Homo sapiens: one gene and its partners. The protein of the gene in region 3 interacts with the protein of the main gene of each other region in a pairwise test. Each region holds a gene or a part of one and is shown on either strand. Other genes may lie near its edges.

Region 1 (7,333 bases), on a different chromosome or scaffold from region 3:
CTGAGGCAGGAGAATCACTTGAACCCGGGAGGCAGAGGTTGCAGTGAGCTGAGATCACGCCACTGCACTCCAGCCTGGGCAACAGAGCAAGACACCATCTCAAAAAAAAAAAAAAGAAGAAGAAGAAGAAGAAAAAAATTCTTTTTCTCATCTCTCTCTCAGGCTGACACTCCACTTCTCTGTTCCCCTTTGTAAGAAAACTCCCCCAACGAGTTGTTTATACTTGCTATCCCCTCTCATTTTCTCTTGAACCTACCCTAATCAGGCCGCACCCTCACCACTCCATGGATGCGTTTTGCCAGTGCCAAATTCACAGATCAAGTCTCAGTCCTAATCGTCCTTGACTGACAGCATTTCCTCTCTCCTGGCTATGTGAATCACTTGGCTTCCAGTACACCACTCTCTCTCAGCTCTCCTCCTGTCTCACCGACTGTTCTTTCTCAGTCTCCTTTGCTAGCTTCTTTCTGACTTCCAAAAGCTGAAATGCTCTCAGACTACTTCTTCTTACCACGTGATACTCTATTTCTGATGGTCCTGTTCAATCTTGGCCTTTAAATACTAAATACTGATAAATTTCCAAATTTAAATCTCCAGCCCAGACTAAAGAGTCCTAAGCTCCAGGTTCACATATGCTCCAGCCTTCACTATATTCTCCACTTAGATGACTAAGAAGTAAATCAAACTTACAAATATCAAACTAAGCTCTTGGTCTCCACTCCAATGATCAGCTCTTCCCTTCATCTTTCCACTTCGGTAAATGGTACCTCTAAACTTCTACATGTTTAGGCCACAAATCTTGAGGTCATACTTAACACCTCTTTCTCTCATCCCCCACATCCAAATTTACCAGCAAATCTTCTTAGCTTTTCCTTTAAAATAAACCTAGCACGTGTCTAGTCTCCAAAGTGCATTTTTAAAATTTACATTACTTCCAAAAGCAAAAGCCACTATTCCTCAAGTTCAAATATGGCTGAAGTGAGTTACCATGTACTTACCTATTACTCTTTCTACTATCTGATACTGTTTATTCAACTCTGAAGCCAGCTCCTGTTGGCAATTGAAATATTCTACATCTTCAGGAGAAACTTTCCCTAACCTGAATGGCAGACAGACAGAAAAAGTACACATAAACTAAAGTCTGGGGATCCACATACATCAAAGCAAAAGTCAAAGGTGGAAAAGAAAACCTATTTTTTACTCCCATCTGCCCCTTAAGTAATCTTTACTAGTAATTACGCCAGAGATTTTACAAAACAAAACAAACAAACAAAAAAAACACTTTTAGAGAACACTGAAAACCTTACACTCATAGAAGGATATACCAGTTACCTGCCTCTGATGTGTCCTGTCTAAAAAGAGACCCAAAAATAACTCTTTTATGTGATAGATTCATGTGGCAAATTCATACATCTCAACAAATCAGGATAATAAAACTGTACGCCTTTTCTTATATATATATGGGTTTTAGGATTGATTAAACATGACTTGGAAAACTAGTTATTCTTATTACCAAAACCTTTCAGATGACAACAGCAGCAACTTAATATTAGAATTATTATATTTCAGAGGATTTCAAATTTCTAACTGCTTTACAAGCCTACCTCACCATCTAAGGGGTACATATTTTCAGTTTTGAGTCAAAGAAAAAACATGTAATTTACTAAAGTAGCACATTTTGCACAGTAGTAAAACCAGAATTACTGTCCACATTCCAGACACAAAAATCTATGCACATTCCAGACACAAAAATAGGCTAATCACACCACACAGACAGGTATGTCTTCAGGCTGAGCTTGATACCATTATTACCCAGTTTAGGTTTTTGTGTGCTATAGCTCCACATATTTCCCATATACAACACCCAGACATTCAAGGCTGTAAGTAAACTAAACACACGAGGACTATCACAGTTTCAGTAGTTAACCTAATAATTTCCTTCACATCATTTCTGCAAATTGTATAAAACCAGAATTTGTTTTAAGTATATCATAACCCAGAGAGTTCCAGAATATTAACTCTCTACATCTAAGCCACCCCAGCCTAACTACAGGAAAATAACAAGGTGCTTAAGAGAATAAGCTCTGGATTCAGGGCATCAGAATTCAAAACCTGAGTCCACTTGCAGAATTGCTGTGTGCCGTATTCTCCCCATCTACAAAATGGGTAATAACAGTACAAATCTCATGCACTTATTGTGAAAACTAAAGAATGTGTGAATAACGCTCCATAAGCTAGTTAACTCCAAAAACTTGGTAGCCACATATAAAAATATAGTATCTGAAGGTCACAATCTTATAAAATAGAATTGTAAATGGCTCCATGTTTAGATGATCAAAGCAAAATCTGAGATTCTAGATAGCTGTGATCTCCATGCATTATTTTAAAACCTTCCCTTCTTTCAGGCTGCAAATACATTTCTTTAATCCATGATGGAAAATATACCATTGTTTGATTTCGTCCTCTTTTTTCTTGAAGTTCTCTAGTTTTTTTAGGCCCTTCACTTTCTGTTGCTGTAAGGATTCTTCACTCTCCCATGTGCTGTGGATGTAAGACCAACCCTTCCACTTGATGAGGTACTGGATTTCACCTTCATCCTTTTCAGTGTCAAAGTCACCACTAGGGTCGCCATTAGCTTCAATCGCATATACAGTAGTAGATGCTCCAGTGGCTGCAAAAGGATTAAGTACACTTGAAAGAGAGTATATTACACCAGATATTAAAAAGCTTCCCAAGAATGCAATTATCTGAAGACTCCCTTTGTGGATGAAGCACCAAAATACTTCAACTTGAAATAAGTACAAACTCACAAACAACACAGAACGGACTCAATCAAAAATTTCAAGTATTTTAAAAATGTAAACCACTTTTTACATATTCCTAAATTTGCAGGTGAAATCAAAGAAATCCCTTATTCAAAAACAATAAAAACAGAGCAGCAACATCCTTTTGTTTTGGTCCCTTACTAACTCGGAAAACAAATCCCTCTCTCCAAGACTAAGGATAGAACACCAAAATATCCTCCTCCAACCTCCCCTACTCGAAGTCCCCGGTTAACTTTCTTAACCTCAATCGAAGCCAGAATGAAAAAAAGAAAAAAAAAAAAAAGCCAAAAGAAAAAGCATTAAGTATTATTTTGGTATTTCCTTTACAGAAAGTTTACTTTAATGCAACTTAGTTATGAGATATCTAAATTAGATATTTAAAAATCTTCAATATTACCACAATATTTATTTAACCAGTTTGATATTTTCACAAGGAGCTTAAGAAACAAATAACCAAAGGTGGATTTGCTTAATGTTAATTAGCAGGTATCTCTGCTATATCACTGCTTTATAAAACATTGACACTTATCTATACTAGCTTAATTTAAAATCTTAAAGACATAGTGTACACATACCTTTGTCCTCAGCTCTGAAACACTGGGTCAGAAAGACTTCTACATATCACAACAAATACAGCAGTAGACTAAAATTCATCACATTAGAGTTAAAATACCTAAAATCTAAGTCTTACTAAGCATACATAAAATGTAATTTGCTCCCCAAATACACATACCTCCTTTCTTTCCCAGTCTTGAATCTAAGACCTTTTCAATAGTTTCACTATTATCTTGCTGTTCATCAACTCCTTCTCCAGTCATTTCAATGAGATCATCTGAGTCAGTCTCAAAGTCATCATCTTCTTTGTAACTGCAAGAGGAATAATGCTGAATAAATGAGAAATGATCTCTTCAGAATTAAACTGCCACACATAACCGTCACTAGAATAAGAAACCATACCCTTTTGGTTCCAAAAGCATGTTGTTTTATAGATCTGCCATTTACAGTAGGCTCAAAGCTTACTTTTTTTTCCTAAAGTGCTGATGAATGCTCCTAAACAACTGTAGGGAGTCTAACTCAATTTGAAAATAAAAATTCTATATTTATACTGATTTGTATAAGCAAGATATAGAAAACTATAAGGACACTTCTATTTTTTTCATTTTTTAGTATCAGATTATTATGTAAACAAGTAGACTACCACACAAAAAAAGAAAAACCATAATGGAAGAAAAAATTTGCTACTATTTCATCAGGCAAAAAGAGAAGCAATATTTCTAAAATTAAAAATGTCAACCCTGTATGTTGTCTCCCAGTAATAAGAATATGAAATTTAAGTATTCCCAGACTGCTGGAAGCTTCAACACAAATACTTCCTGGTTTAAAAAAAGAAACATATTGGCTAGGCGCGGAGGCTCACACCTGTAATCCCAGCACTTTGGGAGGCTGACACAGGTGAATCACGAGGTCAGGAGTTAGAAACCAGCCTGGCCAACATGGTGACCGTATCGATTAAAAATACAAAAATTAGCCGGCATGGTGGGCGCCTGTAATCCCAGCTACTCTGGAGGCTGAGGCAGCAGAATCACTTGAATCCGGGAGGCAGAGGTTGCAGTGATCCAAGATCGCGCCACTGCACTCTAGCCTGGGCAACACAGCAAGACTCCGTCTCAAAAAAAAAAATTATATATATATATTTATATATATATTTATATTTATATTTATATTTATATATATTTATATTTATATATATTTTATATATATTTATATGTATATTTATATATATATTTATATATATTTTTATATATATTTATATGTATATTTTTATATATTTATATATTTATATATATTTTTATATATTTATAATATTTATATATATTTATATTTATTTATATATTTATATATTTTTTATATTTTTTATATATATTTTTATATATGTAACTTCCTATCACATATTAACAATGAATGATTGAGTCACAAGAAAGAAAAACAATCCTGGATGTAGTACAGTTACAGTAAGAAAAAGTGCTAGGCTATACACTAGCATACTCAAAGCCCAGTCCTAGCTTTGGAATTATTAACTGGATACATTGAATAAGTTATGAATATCTCTAGGATTCATTTTCACCATCTCTATGAAGAACAAATCTGTAAAATCTAAAAAAAAAAATACTTGATTTCTATAAAGTAAACTACTAGTGTTTGCATATATCTGTTCCTTTATTTCATTTTCCTTTTTCTTTTTGAGACAGGATCTAGCTTTTTTGCCTGGAGTGGAGTGCAGTGGCGTGATCTCAACTCACTGCAACCTCCATCTCCCAGGATTCTCCCACCTCAGCCTCCCAAGTAGCTGGGACTGCAGGTGCATGCCGCCACCACACTCGGCTTTTTCTTATTTTTTGTAGAGACAGGGTCTCGCCCTGTTGTCTAGGCTGGTCTCAAACCCCTGGGCTCAAGCAATCTGCCTGCCTCGGCCTCCCAAAGTGTTGGAATTACAGGCATGAGCCACTGAGCCTGGCCTATTTCACTAATGATAATTCCTATTAATGCTTCATATCCTATTAGTACTTGATAAAATCAGATTCAAGTAGCAATACGTTAAGCTGAACCTCAGAAAAACGTCTGTGATTCAAAGAGCAATTCAGAAGTAGGAATATAATCCAAATATCTTTAATGGAAAAAAATGTTATGAAATGAAGATAATGCCACTAAGTCACCATTGGACAGGACACGAACTTGTGGTGTTTTTTAGGAATGAAGGCTTCAAATGAGCTATTGCTACTCTTTTCCTATTCCCCTTGGCTCAATACCACTCTTTTTGCAAGAAAGCTAACCAGATTTCTGAAAACAACTTCAGGACATAGGCTGTTATTTTTATCTATTAAGTGCACAACCCCGGACTTATGAGAACCAAAATCTAACCAACTACTTTATCACATCACACCAGTGAAACACTTCTGGGGTACAACTTACCTAACGTTTTTAGCCGCTCTTCGACGAGTCTGCCTTTTGGGAGCTTCGTCATCATCATCATCCTCATCAGAAGAATCTTGCTTTTTTCTCTTTCCACGCTGAGTCTTCGGCTGCTTTTTAACACGAGGTTTGGGCACTGTTCTAAAATGAGAAGAGAAACAAAAGGCTAAGTCTTCACTTTATCATTTGGTGTCTACTTTATATAACAGTATTTCCCAGAGCAGTGGTTCATACATCAGAATGTAACATTTCACTTGGGGAATGTTAAACATGCATATTCTTGGGCCCTACTCCCTGAAATTCTAATTCACTAGAAATCTGGATTTCCAACAGGAAGGTCATTCTAATGCTGATAATCCTCAATCATTTATGGGAAAGAACGTGAATGTTTCACAAATGTTCATCAGGATTACCTGATATAAAAACACATACACAGCATGTTGTTCATGATAGTATCTCTTTGGTGGGCAAACTGGAAATAGCTATCAAACTATTTTACTTGTAGGAATTAACAGTTTTACTTGTAGGAATTAATCCTATTGATATACACCTAAACAGGCATAATAAAGTATTCACTATAGCATTATTTGCAACAACAAAACATTAAGAAAACTCTAAATATTCTTCAACTGGAAACTAAACAGTACCATGTACTCATAGAAAAAAAAAAAGAGTTTTTTGTATACTAATACGAAAGGATTTCCAGGATAAAGAAACCTACAGAACAAGCAGCAGAGGATGCTATTATCTGTGTGAAGAAAGTAAAGCACAAGAAGTAACTATACATAAGTTTTTACTGTATGTGTATAAAATATACCTGGAATACTACCTGAGAGACTGTGTGCCCTATCACAGAATTAACTTGGACAGACCAGGGAGATGGCCAGGATTGAAAGCCACAGTCTAGAAGCTCACCTAAGGAAATCCCCAAATATTCCATCAGTGATAAAAAGGTGAAAGAAGTCAGAGAGGGAGAGAAATGGATACTCATGATCACATTTATTATCTCTTTCTCTCATACCTCCCATACCTTTCTCATAACCAAACCTAAACAGATGATCAACGATGTAATAAATAATGAGCAAAATTCTAAAAGACAGAACTGGCGTGACAGTTCTGAGATAAACTTATTAAGCTGAGATAAAATAAGATAAAATTCAGTTGACAAATTCCCCTGCTGGTGTTGGGGGGTAAGTACAATGTCCTAGGCCAGAGGTTGGCAAACTTTTTCTGTAAATGGCCAGAGAGTAAATATTTTAGGCTCTGCCAGCCAAGAGGCAAAATGGGGACCAATGTATAGGTCCTTACATAATGAAAGAAAATAAATTTTCACAAATTTTTTTAAATAATTCAAAATGAAATAATCAGGTACATTTACTGCAATATATATCTACTAATGAGAACAGAATTGTTTTTGAGGGGATAACATTTCACTTAATTGGAGTTCAAATTTAGTGCTCTCTATCCTTAAACTGTAAATTAGAAATGTTCATCTATAAAAACTATTCTTAGCTCACAGGCCATATGAAAATAGGTGGTGG
Region 2 (7,333 bases), on a different chromosome or scaffold from region 3:
GTCAAAAAAAAAAAAAAAAGAAAAGAAGGATCTCAAAAAAACACAACCAAACATTATACCTTTAAGAAACTAGAAAAAAAAAACACAATAAATGAAATAGAGACTAGAAAAACAACAGAAAAGCCCAAAGAAACTAAGAGCTTTTTAATAAAAAGATAAAACTGACATATCTTTAACTAGACTAACTCAGAAAAAAGACAGGGCCAAAATTAGAACTGAAAAAAGAGAGTATAAGTGATGTCACAGAAATATAAAGGGGTGTTATATAAATATATAACTATATAAGAGAATACAAGGAACATTTATATGTCAACAAATTGGGTAACTTACAAGAATACACTCCTTGAAACATAAAATGTATCAGGAGTGAATCATGAAGAAATCGAAAATAGGAACAGACCAGTAACAAGTAAAGACACTGGGTCAGTAATCCTCCCAGCAGAGAAAAGCCCAGGACTAGATGGCTTTGCTGGTGAAGTCAACCAAACATTTAAAGAGCAATTAAGCCAATTCTTCCAAAGCACTTCTAAAGAACTGGAGAGAAGAGATCACTTCCAAACTTATTTTACAAGGCTGGTATCACCCTGATACCAAAGCCAGACAAAGGTACCTTAAGAAAATAAAATTACAGACCAATACACCTGATGAACATATATGCAACAATCTTCAGCAAAATTCTAGCAAACCAAACTTAGCAGCACATTAAAAGGATCATACACTATGATCAAGTGGGATTCATCCATGGGACACAAGGATGGCTCAATATATGCAAATCCATAAATGTGAAACATCACATTAAGAAAGGAAGGCTAAAAATCAAATGAATATTTCAATAGATGCAGAAAGAGCATTTGACAATATATGTGCTCATGGATTGAAAGAATATTGTTAAAATGCCTACATTATCTAAAGCAATCTATGAATTCAATGGAATCCCTACCAAAATCCCAATGGCTCTTTTGACAGATATATAAAACATAATCCAAAAATGTATACGGAACCACAAAAGACCCCATACAGCCAAAGCAATCTTAAGAAGAACAAAGCTGTAGGCATCACATTCCTTGATTTCAAAATATATTACACAGCTATAGTAATTAAAATAGTATTGTACTGACATAAAGACAGACACATAGACCAATGTAACAGAATAGGAAGTCCAGGAATAAACCCATGCATATATGATGAACTGACCATGAGGGGTGTTAAGAACACACAATGGGAAAAGGATGTCTTCAGCAAATGGTCTTGGGTCAAGTGTATATCCACATACAAAAGAATAAAACTGTACCCTCACCTCATGCCATATATAAAAATCAACCTAAAATGAAGATATCTGAAAACAACTTTATTCTATTTTCACGCTTGGCTAATAATTTGGTTGAAAATATTATTCTGACTTGGATATAATTTCCCTTCCAAAATGTGAAGGCATTCCCCACATCTATTAGCTTTCAGGACTGCTTTAGAGAAGTGGAAAGCTATTCTGACTCCTGATCTTTGACAGATGACCTGTTTAATCCCTGATCCTGGAAGCCTGGATTATATTTTCCTTGTTCCCTGTGATATGAAGTTTTATAATGGTGTGCCTTTGTGTGGGTCTATTTTTAGCTCTGTGTTTGGTACTTGTGACACCTTTTCAACTGTAAAACTAATGTCCTTCAGTTCTTCGAAATTTTCTTTCTGGGACTCATTTGAGTGAAGTATTTCCTAGACTAATTGTGATATATGTCTGGGAACCAAATAGGTGAAGAAAGTTCTCAGCCTTTAACTTCCTCCCTGCTTTCAGCTATGGTTAGTGTGTCCCAGTCTAAAGAACCTATGTTTTACCCTCTCTAGAAAATAAACCTCCAGTAGTCTGCTGGGGTGATGAAGGGAAGTCATCTGACTTCATAGGGGAAGGGAACTGAGGGTCTAACTCGTGGAGACTTCAAACCAATCCTCCTGTTTTTAGCCTTATATTCAGCCAGAGGTACCCAAGGATACTAATTATCATGTCTTTAGGGGATTCTAGAATATATGTCGGGTTACTTCACAGCTTTCCACACTGCTGAAGAATTTAGCTTTTTCAAGAGTGTAATCAGTTATCACTCTTCTGCTTTTCAGTTTCCAAAATTTTACTGCTATTCCCTCCTAACTCAGTTTCTTTGCCCTTGTGAGTTTACGTCTTTAAATTTTTTTCTACTTCTGGCATTTTAGTGGTATTTCAGTAGAGAACAAAAGTGTGTGTATTCAATCAACTGTCTTTACCCTGAAGCTGTATATACTCATATATGATATGACTCTTGTTTGCCCTCTTTGGGATTCTCTCCCTCTTTTTCCTTTTCAGCTTGTTCTAGCACCTTACATTTGACTTCTTCACTTACCTTAACTGGACATAATATGGAAAGCTTGATATTAAAAACAAAGTTTACTGTTTAATGTTCATCGACAATCTAAACTAAAATGAATTTAAAATTTGTAACTCTCTCATTCCTTGTCTAAGATTATATTCAAATAAGTTATATTTTATTTCAGAGTGATATTTACCATAGTGCATTTTGTAGTTTACAAAGTAGTTTAATTTATGGCATCACGTTTAATCCCTAAAAACCCCACTGCAAGGATGAGCTATTTTATACACAACGTGGGAAAGAAAGGGTTAAATAACAGGTCCGCTATCCACTCTCTCTCTAGGGAGAGAGGAGGATGTGTCCAGGAAAGACAGAGAGTGACCTGGAGAAATCTCTCTGAAACACACTAACAATAGATCTCCTGGAAAAAAAATAAATGATATCTGTTAGCCATAGAACCCCTATTTATATAATTATCATTTACATCCTTTTAGTAGGATGTAACTGAGATTGCTTATGGTAAACAAACCTGGAATCTATAGATTTATGGGGCATAGCTCCCTGGAAAATGTAACTATCCAAGCATAAAATGAGTATGTTTCATGACCAAATCAACTTTCTTTGGTATAAGTAATAAAGAAACTTCTTATGTTAATATTGATCACAGTGGGTTATGAAGTAGAAAGGAAATACCTGGGGAGCTGTATTGGCATGCCCAGAACTCTCTGCTTTGCCTATGCCTCACGATCACTTGTATACTTGAAATTATTAGTGAAGCTTGATACTGGCTAAGATCACTGATCTGCATGAGCATCATTTGACAATCCAACATTTTGTGTTATCCCACAAGGCAGCTGAGCCTCAGGATGGTTAAGTCACTTGGTGAAAGTCATGTGCTAAAACAAATTGCCAAATAGGACTAGAAACCAAATCTTAAATCACACTTTTTCAGCCATTTGACACATATCCTAATGTGATGGGGGAAAAACAACAACAAAAAACATAAGCTGTGTGTCAGAAATAGACTTGCCTCCTGGATCTGTAATTGCTTAGCTGTTCAATCTTAGGCAAATAACTTACAATATTTAAAACCTATTTCCTATGCAGTAGCTCTTACATAAACTATAAAAGAGATCTTAGTAAGTATAATGGAAAGCATGATATAATATGACAGAACATTTACAAACATTTCTAAAGAATGGAAAAAAATATTGCTTACTTTTTTCCTGTAATGCCTGCAATTTATTCAGTTCTTCATTCTCTTCATCGCTATCTTCACTACTTGTACTGCTGACATCCAAAACTATGTCCCTTTTAGGGTCTACTCGGAGAAAATTGCGGCATTCAAAAGTCAGGTGACCAGCTAAGTGAAACAAACAAAAAAAATGTGAGTGATAAAACTATAGATACATTATGTATTTTTGTATGTTTTGCTGCCTCACGGTAACCAGTAAGTTACAATTTCAATAATATAATGTAGAAAGCTTTAACTTTTATTCAGTTGGTAGTAGTTTGGTTATTTTCCCTATACTTTTCCATGAATGCAATACTCAGAAAGAACTTTTTCCTTTCTTCCTCAGAACTCCTTATTCAATAAGCATTTTTGGGGGCCACTTCTTATGGATTTCAAAGTATTGAGTTATTCTATTTCCCTTTCTAAAAATACAGTAATATCTTTAACTAAACTAAGTAAATAAAAAATACCATCATACTTGGGATTTTATATTATATTCCTTTCCCATACCTTTTCTTTCCCAGTTTGACAAATGTACTCATGCAATTATATACCTTTCATCTAATTAAAGTTGGCATAATAATATACAAGCATTAATATAACTGAATGTGCTTTACTAAAGAATACCTAAACATTTAATTCTTGCATCATTTCCCTAAAGACTCTACCCTATAAGAAAACTACAACAGTTATCTACTTATGTATATGTTTTAGAAAGTCAAATATTACAAACACTATAAAAGTAAAGAAAATAATATAACCAATACCTAAATACCTATCATCCAAATGTTAACATTTTGTCATGCTCACTTTCAATTCATTTAAGGAAAAAGCTCACTCGCATGCCTGTGCGCACACACACACACAGCTGGAGAGCTTGTATCAACTTTTGGAACACTTTCTCAATCTCATTCCATTTTTTTTTTTTTGTCCTCTGAAGCAACTGCACTGAAGTTGGTCTCTATCATTCCCAAACAACATATTGTGATATGTATTCTTAAAAAAATAAACTCAATTATACCTATACCTGCAATTTTTTCCTGCCACCCAATATTTTGTGATTTATCTATGTTAACATAACAGGTGTAATTTGCTCATTTTATCTAATCGATAATGTTCTACTGTATGAAAATTATATTTATTTGCTGTACTATTGATAGAAACGTAGGTTGCTTCCAGTAGTTTGCTATTATAAAAAGTGTTTAAATGGGCAGTTGTACATGTCTCTTTGTGCACATGTACTAGGTTTTCTTTAGGGTAGCAGCTTTCAAGTTTTCTTAACAACCGAGAACAGTAAAAAATAATGCAAACAAGTGCACTCATACACACATTCATGGATAAATACACCCTAACACACAAAAACTGAAACAAAAGTTAATTGAAAGATTTCTATATTCAATGTTCAAAACAACCAAGGCTAATGGTGATCAAATAATTCATTTCACGATCCACTAATGATTCACTACAAATCTATGCTAGGGGTTGTTTCCAGTTGTCTCTTATTTTGTGGGTGAAGTCCTTTGGGAGTCCTAGGTTTATACCAGAGACTCTCTAAATAGAGTTCCAATTTGGCTTGGGCAGGGCCCTGGGCCTTATTTTTATCCCCCACATCCTGCCAGCCCATAAAAAATAGAAGTTCAAGAGCCTAGGGTTCATCAAATATCCTCAAGGCTTAATTCCTGGAACTTCTCCTTTCCTTTGGTTGTTGGCCTTTGAATATTCTTAGTTCTTTATTTTTTTCTAGTATATTAATGTATCTAAAATATGTATTGCACATTTTATACAAGTTTCTTAGTTGTTTCTTAGTCTAGTCTGCCATATTATTGGAACAAGTTTTCCTCACTGTGATTTCCTAACAAATGAATCATTCAGAAGCACTCTTTTTAGCTTCCAAACATATGGAGTTTTCAGGCTTTGTGTTTATTGTCAATCTCTAAATTTACTACACTGTTATCAGAGAATGGGATCTGTATGATATTAGTTCTTTGGTATTTGATGAGACTTCTTTTGTGGCCTAGGATGTAGTAAATTTAGGAAAGATTTGTTATGTATTTTGAAAACACAGTCATATACTGCATAATGGTGTTTAGGTCAATGATGGACCACATAGACAACACAGGTCCCATAAGATAATAATACTGTTCCTTGTCAATGTTTAGATATGTTTAGACACACAAATACTTACTACTGTGTTACAACTGCCTACACTATTCAGTACAGTAACATGCTATACAGGTTCATAGCCTAGCAACAATAGGCTATACCATGTAGCCTAGGTGTGTAGTAGACTATACATCCAAGTTTGTGAAAGTACACTCTATAATTTCCACACAAAGATGAAATTGCCTAATGACACACTTCTCAGAATGTATCCCTGTTGTTAAACAACACAACCATATATTGTTATTTGTTGAAAAGGGTTCTATATCTGTTTGCTTGTTCAACTCTTCTCCATCTTAATTTTTTTGTCTAATAACTTCTGATAGAAGTACTTAAAATTATACAAGTATTGATTTGTCAATAATTGCTATTATAAATAATGTTGAAATGAGCAGCTGTAGACATCTCTGTGGGCATGCACCAGGTTTTCTCTAGGGTAGATTTGTCAATTTCTCCTTGTAACACAGATTTTGCTATATATTTTGAGACATTAGTAAATGCTTTGAAGATCATTACTTTATCTTTTTAGTTTATTGTTCGTGAGTTTCCACTTATCACCAGTAGTGCTTTTGCCTCAAAAGTCTGAAATTATAATGGTTCTGTTATAGTAGGTAGCTAGTCAGGCATGAGTGGAGCAGGAGAGGGCTCCCCCACTCACAAAGGAACATCAGGCAACCATCAAGTGATGGTCCAGCAGCTGTCACACTGTCTCTCTAAAATGATAATTGGTCACAGCCAGTGCCAGGGAGAAGCAGTTTCTGAACAGATAAAAATACCTGAAATTGATAATCAGCAGCTTCCAATAAGATCTCAGGAACCGGGCAAGTGGACACAAGCATGTGCATTAAGAGGCAAAAATGAAGGAGTATGACCTTCTGGGGGCATTCCACCAGAAAAGGGAAGAAAAAGCCTCAGGTGAACATGTGTACAACTCCAGTAAACACACTGTGCATGCTCACCTCCCAAGCGCAGGTAGGGCACCATGCATAAGAGAACAATGAAGGGAAAGGGGTGCAAGACGCTGGAAGTAAGCCAGCATGTAAAATGCTAGGTTCAATGTTAATTGGGGCACTTAACCTCAAGGTGCCTGTCTGGGCCTCTTCCAAGTATATTTTCCTTTCTTTCGTTCCTGCTTTAAAGCTTTTTAATAAATGTCTACTCCTGCTCTGAAACTTGCCTCAGTCTCTTCTTCTGTCTCATGACCCTCAGTAGAATTCTTTCTTCTGAGGTGGCAAGAATAGAGGTTGCTGCAGACCTGGACGGATTCGCCACCGGTAACTAGGATACCCACCACCGCTAACAGTTCCACTAGTGCTCTTTTGTTTATTATTCGTTGGGTAATATGAAATTGCCATTTTTGTAGGTAAAATAGTGGAATATCAGCAATGTTCAATCAAATATGTGTTTTTTCCTTGTCCCTTTATTTTGAAAATTTCTGTGTAGTTTTTAGTTTTATGTGTAGTTTTATTAATCACAACACGTAGTTGGACTTAATTTTTTAAATTTGATTTGATATCAGCACAATTTTTAACATTAATTTCTTAGCATGGGAAAAATAGTTCCTGCTTCACAGGAAGCCGTGTAAATTCACTCCTCATACTTACAT
Region 3 (8,002 bases):
GAAGGGTCACTGCAACCTCTACTTGCCCAGCTCAGGCAATCCTGCCACCTCAGCCCTTTAAGAAGCTGGGACCACATGGACCGTGCCACCATGCCAGGCTAGTTTTGATATCTTTTGCAGAGACGGGGTTTTCCTATTTTGCCCAGGCTGTTCTTCACCTACTAGGCTCAAGCGAACTGCTTTCCTCCACCTCCCAAAGGAGGATGGCTCACGATTACAAGATCATGCTCAGCCTTTTATTAAAACAACAACAACGGCAGCAACAGCAAACATTTTATGTATTCGGAGTTATCAGTGTCAACTAATGGCTTGTGTGTTTTTGTCTAAGAAGTTCTTATCTACTTGATTTCGAAAAAAAAAAGAAAGGAAAAAGGAAATCTCACATCTTTTTCCTTATTTATGATTACAACTAGGGTGTTTTTAAAAATTATCAGTGAACATCCAAAATAGAATTGTTCCCAATGCGTTCATATCTTCTGAATTCTGAGGTGTTCTCCAAGCTGGGAGGTAGTGGCTGGGTGTGGGAGGCAAAATCACAGGGCCAGCACATGACACCTGCAGAATTCAAAGGCTCAACTTTGCACCAAGTTAAAGGTTCTGGTGTCCATTGGAAGTTTCGTTCCCCAACCCGCATTGACTTTGCCAATGCAAAAATCCCCCCAGATTTTATCTGCAAGGCAAGTCCTGAGTTTATCGTCGGGAGAATCTTCTCTTGTAGTCTCGAATTGCCTTGGCCATCAGCGGGGCCACTTTCTTGGCAGCCTGTTTCCGGGTTTTGGCCGCGGGCGCCGCGTGCTCATTGCTGCTGCTCAGGCAGGGGTTGGCCCGCTTCTCAGGGAGCCAGCGAAGGATGCTGCTGCTGCTGTCTCTGCCACCGCCGCTGCTGCTCTGGCTGGAGGGAGTGTGGCTGCTTCCCGCGGGCTTGGAGGCTGGCTTGATCTCCCCATTTTCGGGGTCAGCGTCTCCTGCAGACTTCTCTTGCCTCCTTGAAGTATCATAAGGCGTCTTGGCCACAGATTTGAAACAGATCATCTTTGCCTCTCTGCCGTTGGGGTTGTTTCCACGTGCAGATCGGATATTCGTTGTCATTACTCTCAGCCGCTGCTCTGGGGCGTCCGGAAGCCGCAGGTACTGCTCCCTCCAAGTTTTGTTTTCCTGTGGCTTTTCTTCCTTGAAGTCCTGGAAACAATGATTCCTCCGTAATTCGTCTGTCTCTCTAACGAGTGCGTGATTGTCTTTCTTTCTGCGATACAGCTGATCGGGCCTCCACCCTTCCAGAACAGGTTCAAGAACCCAGTAGGGGACCTCTCCCACGTCGCTGAGGGCGTCCGGATTGTTTCTAAGCACCTGGGCACACTGCTGGCGCAGCGTCGGCACCTGGAGCTGGCAGGCAGGCCTGGAGCCCGAGTACACCGGCATCTTAGCATTCACTCTGCGTCCAGGGAAAGCAGCTTCCTCCCGGAACTTTGGTGAAGAGAGTGCTTCTGGCTTTGCCTGGGAGGTCATGGAGTCAGAATCCGAAAGCGGATCGTAGTTGGCCTGCATCCAGGCCTCTGAGAGGTCCCAGAGCTCTGAGAAGACATGGCTGGGCACCGTTTTCGGCCCGGCGGAATCAGCGCCGGCCGCCTGCAGCCTCTCTGACTGGCTTTCCTGGACAGGAGGCAATTTCTTAGCCGAATCCCAGGACTCACGAGTGCCCTTGGATTCGTTTGCTTTCCTTTGTTTATCTCCAAGTGCAGTGGTGGCAGATTTTCCAGTCTTTTTCTTTTGCTTCCGCAACTGATCGTAGGTGAGGTATTTTTCACATGACAGAGTGGGCTGCTCGAATTCCTCAGCCATATCTACCTCCTCCACCTCAGAGAGGGAGCTCACGGACGTTCTGTCCAAATGAGCAGTCGGTGGCTTCCCCTCTTGAGTCTCTCGGTCGTTGGAAAGCTGCTCTTTCTCCTCGGGCGACAGGCCGTGTGTCCCATTTCCTGGGTCCCGGCCGTCTAGACTGGGCCTCTTCTTGTTCGAGTGACTGTGCTGAGGCCTCTTCTGGTGACTGTCTGGAGCCTCCTCCAAGGCAGGGACACGCTGGCCGCTGCCAGCTTGCCCCCCTTCCTTGTCTGTCTTGAAGTCCGAAGGCTGCCTGTCCCTGGCACTTGCCCAGGAGGGCATCCTTGGGGTTTCCTCTCTTAAGCAGGCCCCGCATGATTTCTCCCTGATCAAAGTAGGGGAGTGCCAATCTCCCTGGGCACACAAGGGGCGTTTTTCCTGGCGAGACGATTTGTGCCCCTTGCTGTGGCTCACAACGGCTTTCCCCTGGGGTTGGCCCTGGCAGCCTGGACACAGCAGAGGCCCGCCCTGAGCCGCGTGAGTGTGGCCTCTTCCGGGTTGCTTCCCGGGCGCAGCGGGCTCAGGGCCCTCGGGCATCCGGAGGGGAGCTGTGCGCGTTGGAGAGGCCCGATAGCGGCCGGAATCAGCTGGGGCTATTCTGGGGCACTTTCTCTCAGCTCTGGGCTCGCGACTGTGAGACCTCGGGTGAGGTCTCTGTTGCCCCGGAGGTGTTCTGCGTGCTGTCCGTCTGTGCTCAGGGCTGTGAGATGGGCTCCTGGGGGCCGTCGCGTTTTCTGGGAAGCCCCAGGCCTTTTCCTGGTCCTGAAGAGCCTCCCCGAAGCGCTGTCGGGAAGCGCTCTCCTCAGGGTCCTGTGGGCCAGGCCGGGTGTTTCGGTCCACGAGCACCAGCTTCTTCCACCGGGCCGCTAAGTCTCTGGCAAAGTCGCCCACGTGCTGGTGCTTCCGCAGGCGCTTCACCGTCTTTCTGATTCCAGTCTCCGCCAGGATGTCTGCCGTCATGGGCAAGGCGGAGAGTTTCTGCAAATATTTCTCTAGCTTTTTCGGCTCCGTCTTAGTGGCCAGACGCACCTGCAGCTTCTCCACTGCGTGCAGCGTAGTGGACCCTGCCGCCATCTCACCAGAGCTGTGCAGGCGTCGCTGTCCCGGCGGTCGCAGCTCTGTCTTTGGGGCTGCGGGACAGGAAGTCTGGGGTGGCCGGTCCTCGCTGCCCGGTCGCCAGGCAGCGACCTCGGGATGTGGAGTCACAGCCTGGAGCGAGCTGGGTCCTCGGAGCAGCAGGCCACTTGGTCTGGAACGGCCGTCCTTGCAGACAGCTGAGCAGGCCCGCTTTTGTTCCTCGGGATGTGGAGCCACAGCCTGGAGTGACCTCTGCAGTTTGCTGTGCAACAAAGAATGAAGCTCTGGTGCCAGAGCTGGGCCTTATGTAGCCCATCCCAGGCTGACACTCACGGCTCTAGCCCTGACCCTCTTAGCTCTTGGGCTGCCCCGCCCCCATACGTACTCATGCCGTCAGCACAATGCAGACAATCGGGACGGTCCACGCCAGGTGGACTGCTGTGCCCCAGAGGTTGATTAGGTTAATTTCAGCCTCGACACACCCCACTGAGTTTTACCGTTGACCTTCCATGTTCGCAGGTTCCACATCTGTGAATTCCAAAAAACACAGACTGAATCTTCTTGGGAGTAAAACAGAAAATAACACAGCAAGACAAAATCATAGAAAGAAGAACCAATACAGGATAACAACTCTTTGCCTAGGACTGATGTTGTGTGAGGGGACTTCCCAAATTTGTCAAAACAGGGATTAAAAGACAAAAATAAAACCGGTAGATTTTATTTCTTAACATCTGCTCCATCAATTTCGAGACAGTAGTTCGAGCACTGTCTTGACCCCGCCTTGTCCCTCAAGCCCTGATGTTTCTGGGAATTTAACTATTTCCAAGAAATCTTTTTTCCATTATTAACTGAAGAAAACTGGGTGCCGTTTGCAGAATTTTTAATACGAGGAAATAAATAGAAGTCAGCAGGTTCCACATCATGACTGCAAGGTGGACGCCTCATGATCTCCTTTTGAAACTCTTGCCAAACTGCCCTTTGTTCAGTGAAATGCTACAGCAAGAACTTTTTCATGATTAGGTAGAACTCTCTGGTAATGGTTTTTCTGCTCATGCTTTGGCTAGTTTTCTCAAAAACTCTGTTAGTAAGCATATTTGATCTTGGTTTGGCCCTTCAAAAAGTCTTTTAGTCATATCTTTTGAGCATTCCCCAAAACTGTTGCCATGACCTCTTCTCTTGACTGGTCCTCTCTGTCTTTGACTGGAGTGCTGCCACCTTTTGGTAGCCTTTGTTTTGTGCTCTTTCTTCAGGACTATCCAGTGTAGCCATGTTTTATCCCCGCTTACAAATCTTGGAATAAATATTTCTGGATCTTCTTCCACCTGTTTTAAAACTTTAAAGAAATTTTTACTCTTGTCTCTAGCTATTATTGTTGAAACAGATTTGGTATCTGGATCGGACTTTAATTTTCAGTGACAATTATTAAAACAGGATCATTTGAAATATCTATGGTTTTTTCTCTTATTTCTGTTGTTACTTATTTACCCTCTCAAATTAGGGAACACTTGGTCCTATGTTTCTGAGCATAGTTGACCAATTCTGACATTGTATTAAATTCAATAAATGTCTTTTCTGGATCTGTAGACACTTCTTTTGATATTTCTAGCATTTTTTTGGGTTGTACAGCATTTGAAAGTTAGGAAGTTTCCTGGCAGAGCCAGGAGATAGTCAGGAAACAAACAAGAAACAAATTAGAACCTACAGGTATATATATTCAACCTTTTAGGGGAATATTAGATGCAGGGACTGTAAAACAGAAGTATAGTAAAGACATTTGAAAGAAGTGATGTATGCTTTTTAACTGTTTGTTTTTGAGATTGAAAGCTTAATGCAAAATTTGGATCTTATTACTGAAATTGAAACGAGCTCATGCAAATTAATCTCCATTGCACCCGTAAAAAGGAAATTAAAAGCACTAATGTTGCATGTGGTGTATATACAGTAACATTTCCTAAATATCTTCTGGGTCTAAAACTGGGAATGATATTCAATGCTTCCTTTTCCTCAGGCTATGGTATCATAGGATTCAATTTTGAATTTGATAATGGAGGTATATTTGTGGCACAATAGCCCACAAAGGAAATGAAAGAAAACAAAAACAGCCAGATTATTGAAACATGCAAATGAGACACCTAGATTAGATGTTCACTTCTGGGCCTCCTTTCTTTGTACACAGAAATTAATGAGCATGTAATTGTGTCCATTTCAGGGGCACACCATCTCTTACAGTTTAAATGGATCCTTTTTGCGGGGAATGGCTCATTCTTAGTTTTTTTTAATTCAGAAGATAATTTTCTAGGTTAATTTGAATGGCCTGGGCAGAAAGATGTAGATCTGGCCAACTTTATACCTTTAATTAAGAAATTTGTAAGACTGCATTCTGTGTTTTCAGTAACAGAAGCTCATCTTAAATATTTAACACTACATTTGGAATAGTGTTTTTAAAACTCTCTTTTCCTGCTTTACTCTTACTGAATTCTGAATTTTTATCACTCTTACCACAAAATAAAAATCACATTATTATTTTAAGACCTGGTCACCACAAGTAAAAGCTGCTTCACAGTCCACATAGTAGGAAAGCCATTTTTTTTTTTTTATTAGAGATGGGAGTCTCCCTATGTTGCCCAGGCTGCTCTCAAACTCCTGGGCTCAAGTGATCCTCCCACCTTGGCCTCCCAAATTGCTGGGATTACAGGAGTGAGCCACAGTGCCCGACCATGAAAAGCCATTTTTGATGCAGCCTCATTACCAGACAGAGTTCTAAAGGACTCAGCCAATCCCCATTATAGACATCGACTCTTTTGCAAACTGTGATTCTAATAAAAAAAAAGTGGAAATTCTTTTGATTGGAGTTGAAGTACCTGCCATTTTGCAGAAATGTAATGAAAACCCTGAGTAAGCCTGTCTTTTAGGCTATTCTTTCAAAAGTATGATCAACATTGCTCAGATTTGTTTAGGATTAAGAATTAGACCTCTGTCTCAAGAATTAGAGCTTTTGCTTTCTTATTTATCCTGATTAACTGTGTTAATTAGGTCAGTGGTTCACTGTTTAAATGACTCTCCAGGGATTCTAAAAAGGAGTTTGAAGGAAATAATTCTGACAAATGTTCCAACTTGCTTTTATTAGGGTTGCTATGAAACTCACTATCCTACCTGTGGGTAGTAGAAAATAAACTGTATTTTTCTGCCTCTGTGTATGTGCATGTATGTGCACACATGGAGTATTTCTATAATATAGTGTAATTGATCCTCTAGAGTATAAATTGCTGAGTGATATTGCTGGGTCGACAGGTATGCGCATTTTTCTCTTTGATAGATTTTGTCAATTTGCTCTGCAAAAGGGTTGTACCAACTTACATTCCCACCAATTGTATCTGAAATACAATATTCTTTCAATACCTTACCAAATCTGGATGTAAAAATGTAAAAAATAGCTGCACTTTAAAAAATTTGAGAGTCTTATTGAAAGAAGCTTATTTTTGTACCAAAAAACTGAAGAAGTATAGACAATAGTTAAGGTGGTTTCTTCAACTTGTATATATATTGCAAATTATTATAAAACCCACAAGAAAAACTGCAAAGAGAAATGTCTGCTGTAAATGAATATGTGAAGATTCTGAACACAGAAATGCCTGTATTACTCTTCTGTTCAGTAAGTCTACTCCTGTAGTCACACTGATAGAGCAAGGCTGGGTAGTAATAAAGTGTCATTGCTACACTCCAAAGCAGAAACAGGCTCTGTCTGGGGGCTGAAAAAGCAGGCCCTCATGGTGCTGTGTGTGATAACCAGTTCTTTTACCCCCATCATTTCCATCTTGAATAGCTTCAAAATATTGCATATAATGATTTATATTTTCAGTTAGACTATTTATTTTATATATCAAGCCACAATTTTACTTAAATTATTTACATTTATTTAAGCCTTCTTTTCTCTGCCCCTCTCCCACATTTTGCATTTTAAAATATCTTTATTCATATACCTTACAACTCACCATTTAAAATGTACAATTCCATGGCTTTCAAGATATTCACAGAGATATACTTCCATTGCCTTGATCAATTTTAGAACCTTTTCATTAGCCCAAAGAGAAATTCTGTACCCTTTACCTGCCATCCCCTCCACCCACTGCCTCCTGCAGTTCTCCCATCCTCCCCAGTCCTCTCCTCCCTGCTTTTAAATGTTTCTTCCAGGATCTTTTTTTTTCTGTTCCTCTAATAAATCTAATGAGTTTTCCCTAATGAGTTTTTCATCCCACTAATGAGGGTCTTCCTCTGGGTATATGCATGTCTGTGCACACATGGAGTATTTCTATAATATAGTGTAATTGACCCTCCTCATCTTTAAGAAATTCAGCCAAACCCAGTGCAGTGGATCCAGTACTGAGGAGCACACAGAACACTAGCTACTTTTTCTCAGTGACCTAGTCCTAGAGAACATTTGCACAAGTACATGTTTCAATTAGGAAGAAGCAAATGCTTCTAGTGAAGGATAGAGAGACTCTGAAATGCATGTACGAAGCAACTAACAGCTATTGGGCACCCACCAATTACTATCCCTAATATTGGCATAGCACCCCCACAGTTTTCAAAGCACTTTCCAGGCTTTATTTCATGTGATGTACAGGACACTGTGTTAGAACCTCTAATATGGAGGGATATGGACATTGTTAGAAATGGGACCAGTCAGTGTCCAATATAGTCTTTAGAAAAATGTAGATCACTTTCATGTCTCTTTAAGCCAATTCCCATCTTTGCTTTCTCAAAGACTTTTACATGCATATGAAATGGATTAGCTTTATTTACAGCAGGTCTGCAACTATTCAGCAATTAAAAGACATAATCTCTTATAAGACATACTACTCCTGGTACAGCAGGGTGACTAACCTTTTGAAGGAGGTCTAGCCAGTAACAGCTTTGGAATGGTCACTAATATTGTGGGAAATTAGGTTTGAGAAATTGTAAAAGACATCATTCATTTATTACTCTGTTAGGTCAACTAGGAAAGACCGGCTGGTAACCACAGTTGTTTGTTTCTGGCAAGTTTGGC

The links. The genes of interacting proteins can lie anywhere in the genome.
Region 1: the proteins of ELOA2 (region 3) and CHD2 interact in binary tests that used the Homo sapiens proteins (3 or more experiments, as listed by UniProt).
Region 2: the proteins of ELOA2 (region 3) and SREK1IP1 interact in binary tests that used the Homo sapiens proteins (3 or more experiments, as listed by UniProt).

What each region holds. Positions count from the first base shown.
Region 1 is NC_000015.10:92,938,178-92,945,510, reverse strand, and holds part of CHD2 (chromodomain-helicase-DNA-binding protein 2), read right to left. Parts: intron 5,934-7,333; coding exon 5,793-5,933; intron 3,690-5,792; coding exon 3,556-3,689; intron 2,669-3,555; coding exon 2,443-2,668; intron 1,097-2,442; coding exon 996-1,096; intron 1-995. UniProt on the Homo sapiens protein: ATP-dependent chromatin-remodeling factor that specifically binds to the promoter of target genes, leading to chromatin remodeling, possibly by promoting deposition of histone H3.3.
Region 2 is NC_000005.10:64,737,505-64,744,837, forward strand, and holds part of SREK1IP1 (protein SREK1IP1), read right to left. Parts: intron 3,697-7,333; coding exon 3,553-3,696; intron 1-3,552. UniProt on the Homo sapiens protein: Possible splicing regulator involved in the control of cellular survival.
Region 3 is NC_000018.10:47,032,313-47,040,314, forward strand, and holds ELOA2 (elongin-A2), read right to left. Parts: upstream 3,310-8,002; 5' UTR 2,953-3,309; coding exon 691-2,952; 3' UTR 215-690; downstream 1-214. UniProt on the Homo sapiens protein: SIII, also known as elongin, is a general transcription elongation factor that increases the RNA polymerase II transcription elongation past template-encoded arresting sites.